Linked DNA regions of Homo sapiens: region 2 is linked to region 1. The links come from fine-mapping of genetic effects on gene expression. A gene starts in region 1. The other region holds a variant in brackets. All regions are shown on one strand. Distances are between the middles of the regions.

Region 1 (2,919 bases):
TACAGCAGGTTATGGTATGGAATGCATTTTGGAACAAGATATTAACAAAAATTCAAAGGAAAAAATACATGGCCATGGAATTCCAGTGCTGAGAGACATTTGGGAATATTGGGGGAGTTTTCCAAAAGAGAAATCCAGGTGACTGTATTTGTTAAATGAGTAACAAAAGGAAAAACAATGTAAAGAAACAGAAAGGAAAGGAAGAGAGAAATACAAAGATCTGAGAAGAGAAGGTGCCAGGGGCCGCTGAGAGATTGCCAAATGTTAATTTCATTATTTGGCTTCTTATTTTATTCTGGGTAAAGGTAGACCTATTAGTTTCCTGTTGCTGCTATAACAAATTACCACCAACTTAGTGGCCTCGAACAATGCAAATTTATTCTTTCAAAGTTCTGGAGGACAGAAGTCCAAAAATGTGTCCTATCAGCTGAAATCAAAGTGTTGTGTTCCTTCTGGAGGCTCTAAGGAGAATCTGTTCCTTCTCTTTTCTAGTTCTAGAGGCCATCTGCGTTCCTTGGCTCATGTCCTTCTTTCAGCAATGGCATCATCACTCTGACCTTTGCTTCCATTGTCACATCTCCTTGACTCTGACCCTTTTGCCTCCCTCTAATAAGGCCCCTCTGATTACACTGGGTCCACCAGATAATCCAGGATAGCTCTCTGTCTCAAGATCCTTAATTTAATCATATCTGCCAAGGGTTTTGTTTTGTTTTATTTTGTTTTTGCCATTTAAGGTAATATATCCACAGGTTCTGGCAATTAGGTTGTGGACATCTTTGGGGCGACAATTCTCAACCTACCATACAACCGGTACATAAGGTTCTACTACCTACTAAATGCATCATAAACAGAACTTCTGATCCTTCAACAACTCTGTGAAATATATGACAGGATTTGCTTTTAAAGTTGAAGAAATCAGGCCTTGGTGCAATTTGGGATTCTGCCCATGGTCAAATAGTGGGGAGGCAAACCCAGGTCCCTGAACCCAGCTCAAGCCTGCCTGCCTCATGGCCATGCCTCCATTCACCTCTCCCCTTCATGTCTACTTCCTCTTTCCTGTCTGGGCCTGTTCCCTAGCTCCCTGGACAAGCTTAAGCTGCTGTTTTCCAGCTTGTCATGTGCTCCTTATGACAGTGTAGCCACAGCTTGATCTTGGGGATTGCTGATTGAGCAAGCTGAGTGGCTGCCCCTCAGAATCTTCTGTAGGCCTTTCTCTTGCCTTCTTTTATTCAGTAAGTGTTTTGAGCTTATTGTGCTGGGTGCTAGAGTAGCAGGGAGGACAGACCTAAGTTGAAGATTACGGGACAATCTAAGTGACACCTGCTATCTCAGACAGAGACTTCAGCATCATAGGGAGCCAGAGCAGGGAGTTCCAAGCCGTGGGAACTGTGACTCTTTCTTACTGACCCTTAAGCAAAATTCTAAGCTCCAGGGAAGCAGAGGCAGCAGCTTGAGCTCCCTGATTGACCAGATATGATTAATCTTTGTTTCTCTGTGCTTTGAACATGACTATGCTCCATAAATATTTAAAAATTGGGAATAGGGTGAAGATAGATACACCAAAAGGAGCAAGCAGTGTCTGAAACCAGCAAAGACTTAAAAGTTACCGAAGAAGGTGTTCATGCTTTCATTTTATCTTTTTTTTTTAACCTAGCAACTGATGACACTGCATATCTTCCCCTGTTCTTATTGGGAGAAGGCCTTGTGTGTCACCAAGAGGTTCTCAGAAGGGACCTGTCAGTTTTTGGTTAAAAGAACCCGGAAAGAGAAGGACTATGGGGGAACTGATGGCGTTCCTGTTACCTCTCATCATTGTGTTAATGGTGAAGCACAGCGATTCCCGTGAGTATCCCACGTCCTCTTCTCTCCTAACTCCAAAGTCGAGGCAGCCTAGAAGGCACAGCTTTTCTTCCTAAAACTTGTGGTGAAAAATATAGAAGCCAGGGGCAGAAACGTGTATGTATTACACTCAGACTCCAGGAGCAATGGATTGCCTGAACAGTTTCCCAGTTCATATTTGTAGGATTTTGATGTCACCACCTTCTGAGGGAGGGGGAGCCGTTCTAGAAAGACTCTGGAACTTCCTCACTTTCCCTCTGAGCATGGCCTCCTTTCTTTTCTGCTCATATTTTTTCTTTTACTTTTGTTTCTCCTCTTTTCTAACTTCCAGAGTCTCATGAGGATGTAGTCAGAGTTTCAGGGGCATTAACAGTGGAGTAGATCCATTGTTCAGGTTTATTTATGTTTTTCCTCAACACAAGCCCTACCTGTAATAAAAGATCCAAGAAAGATAAAACCATGGCTCTGGGTTTGTTTACTGACTGTGAGAAGTATTAATCAAGTAGAAGGGAGAGTTTTTCATTATTCGGGGAGCTCAAGTCACTGGGGAAGCAAATGCCTTCTGTTGCCTCAAATAGGGGAAAGGGCCCATGGGCTAGAACCACCAGGCTTCTCTGCCCTAATCACTTGCTCCCTGGGCTGAGGACTGGTACTGGTGGGCAGTGTCCAGAACTTAGACTTGGCCACCACCATAGGTGTGACTGATGAACATGAGAGGAAGGAGTTCTTTCAAATCACCCATGCACATAGAGAGTGGAATGACTGACCATGGAGATTTGGAAGGGCGAGGGGGGTGGATGATTAGAAATTACTTAATGGGTACAATGTGTGTTACTTGGGTGATGGATACCTTAAAGCCCCAACTTGACCACTACACAATCTATGCTATAACAAAATTGCATGTGTACATCATAAATTTATACAAATAAAAAAATTTTAAATCATATGGCTGGGAGTGGTGGCTCACACCTGTAATCCTAGCACGTTGAGAGGCCGAGGCAGACGGATCGCTTGAGGTCAGGAGTTTGAAACCAGCTTGGCCATCATAGTGAAACCCCATCTCACTAAAAATACAAAAAA
Region 2 (2,919 bases), 49 kb after region 1:
CACCGCACTCGGCCAAGATATATACTTTTGATTAGATCTGTCTAGCTGAGAAAGAGGGCATTTATGTTGTTCAGGATAGTAGAAAGGTTGGAAAGATTAGCCTAGGTTCATAGAATCATAGAATTTTGGACCTAAAATGATTCTAAAACAATCAGCTAGGACACCAGTTCTCAAATGTGGATGCACGTTGTAATTACTCACGGAGCTTTTAAAAATTTCAGTGCTGGGTTTCACCCCAGAGACTGATTTAACTGATCTGGGTGAGGCCTGGGTGTCTGGAAGTTTAAAAGTTCCCCAGGTGATTCTAACGTACAGCCTTAGTTTGAGGTCTACTGATTTAGTCCAACTCCCCAGTTTTATGAGAAAAGGACCACCTTCAAATTTGCTGACACACAGCTGGTAAGAGCTGCCAGGACACCCAATGAGCCCCAGCTCTATGCACCACTCTCGGTTGTTTGTCTTTGACAATGTATTGTGTAGTACTCTGGAGACCACGCCAGAGAATTGGATTTTTGCCATAAAAGGTCATGGGAAGCCACTGAGGGTTTTTGTGCAGGAAAATGGCACATTAAAAACAAATGGTCCTGCAACTTCTAGAAAGACATCAGAATTGAAAGGAATAAATGCACCCTAACAACCCAGGGGATTGATGTTATCCATGTAAATACTCCTCTGAAATTTAAGTTTTCATGTTTATATTTTGAATTAAAAACTAATATTGTGATAATTTCTATGTCATGGCATTCAAATAAGGAGAACTGTGCTCCTCGAACTTGTGGTTGTCTGTTTAGAAAGAACTTTCTTCTGGCCAATTAGTTCTGTTGTTTACATTTTTCTTTGATTTTCTCCTTAACTCTACAACTATCTAAGTGTTTTATGTTTCATTTCTTTTAAAATTTATCTTTTCTGTCCTTTCCCTCTTCCCCAATCAAGGACATTTGTTAATTGCCCACAATATGCTCATGCATATTTATATGTCTACACCTCCCTCTCCCCTTATTGTCCCCAGGGCAGTATTGTCCAATAGAAATATAATTTGAGCCACATATGTAAAATTTTATAAACAGATTAAATTAATATTAATAATCTATTTTATTTAACCCAATATATCTAAATTATATAATTTCAACATATAGCCATTATAAAAATACAAATGAGATATTTTACATTCTCTTTTTCATCCTATGTCTTTGAAACCTGCTGTGTATTTTACGGTTACAGCACATATCAACTGAGATGCTAGATTTTCAAAATTCAAAAACATGACACAATAAGATTGGGTTTCAGGGAACACGTATTCTGCTTCAATTTTTAAATTTAAATGGATTAAAATTACATAAAACGTAAAATGCAGTTCCTCAGTTGTACTTAACACATTTCATGTGCTCACTAGCCACATGTGGCTAGTAGCCAATGTAGTGAACAGCACAGGTCTAGGGTTTTATATGGTGGTGTTTTCTCATTCTGCAGCTTGATAGGATCCTAGGCTCATTTTAATGAGTTTGATTGCTCTACCCTTATTGAAGAATCTGTTTTCCTTAGGAGTCTTAAAGGAGACAGAATCTGAAAAAGTTGATCATAAAAACAATTTAAGGTTCTCTAGTGGCCGGTGCA[G/A]TGGCTCACGCCTGTAATCCTAGCATTTTGGGAGGCTAAGGCAGGCAGATCACTTGAGGTCGGGAATTCAAGACCAGCTTGGCCAACATGGTGAAACCCTATCTCTACTAAAAATACAAAAAAATTAACCAGGTGTGGTGGCGCACGCCTGTAATCCCAGGGAGGCTAAGACACAAGAATCTCTTGAACCCAGGACGCAGAGGTTGCAGTAAGCTGAGATCCCACCACTGTACTCCAGCCTGGGTGACAGAGCAAGACTCTGTCTAAAAAACAAAAACAAAAACAAAACAAAAACCAAAAAACAGAAAAAACAAAAAACAATTTAAGGTTATCTGAACAAAGATTCAAAATTTAGTACAAGAAGGTGGGCAGGGTTGTAAGCAGTTTAGGAATGAAAATGGAGAGAAGGGAAAAAGACAGGTTTTGATGTGCATTCCTAGTCAAACACCATTTGAAAATTTAAAAATTATATAGAAAATCAAGCAGCCAGGGCCAGGCAAGGTGGCTCACGCCTGTAATCCCAGCACTTTGGGAGGCTGAGGCGGGCGGATCACAAGGTCAAGAGATCAAGACCATCCTGGCCAACATGGTGAAACCCTGTCTCTACTAAAAATACAAAAATTAGCCAGGCATGGTGGCGCACGCCTGTAGTCCCAGCTACTCGGGAGGCTGAGGCAGGAGAATTGCTTGAACCCGGGAGGTGGAGGCTGCAGTGAGCCGAGATTGTGCCACTGCACTCCAGCCTGGGCGATGGAGCAGGGCTCTGTCTCAAAAAAAAAAAATTAAAATTAAAATTAAAAAAAAGAAAAATGAAAAAGAAAATCAAGCAGCCAAGAGAAAAAAAAAAAAAGATGTACAATATCCAGAATAGTGAGAGAAAAAAGGAACAAATTAAAAAGTGGATTTGGGCCAGGTGCAGTGGCTCATACCTGTAATCCCAGCACTTTGGAAGGCCGAGGCAGGTGGATCAATTGAGGTCAGGAGTTTGAGACCAGCGTAGCAAACATGGTGAAACCCCATCTCTACTAAAAATACAAAAATTAGCCATTGTGGTGGCATGCGCCTGTTGTCCCAGCTACTTGGAAGACTGAGAGGCGGAAGTTTCAGTGAGCCATGATCACACCACTGCACTCCAGCCTGGGCAACAGAGTGAGATTCTGTCTCAAAAAAAAAAAAAAAAAAAAAAAAAGTGGATTTGTCTGTTCTCAGAAGAAAAAAAGGAGTATCACTTACATAAAGTGCTAATAATGTATTTTTATAGATCTTTTCCCCCTAAATATTTAGTATGTCATACAAATGACTATT

The links. PIP is the estimated chance that this variant, and not a neighbour inherited with it, causes the effect. A credible set is the group of variants that fine-mapping cannot tell apart.
Region 2: its variant is the best candidate, but not a certain one, in a credible set for the expression of MR1 in lung (TOPMed, PIP 0.58).

Annotation. Positions count from the first base shown.
Region 1 is chr1:181,032,233-181,035,151 of GRCh38, forward strand. It overlaps MR1 (major histocompatibility complex, class I-related), which reads left to right and starts at 1,751. Exons shown (of 6, transcript NM_001385161.1): 1 at 1,751-1,842. The coding sequence starts at 1,776. RefSeq lists enhancers at 931-1,120, 1,321-1,420, 1,551-1,660.
Region 2 is chr1:181,081,109-181,084,027 of GRCh38, forward strand. No RefSeq gene overlaps it. Among named protein-coding and RNA genes, the nearest start is that of IER5, 6.1 kb to the right of the region's middle. The variant G/A (reference allele first, on the strand shown) is at 1,615.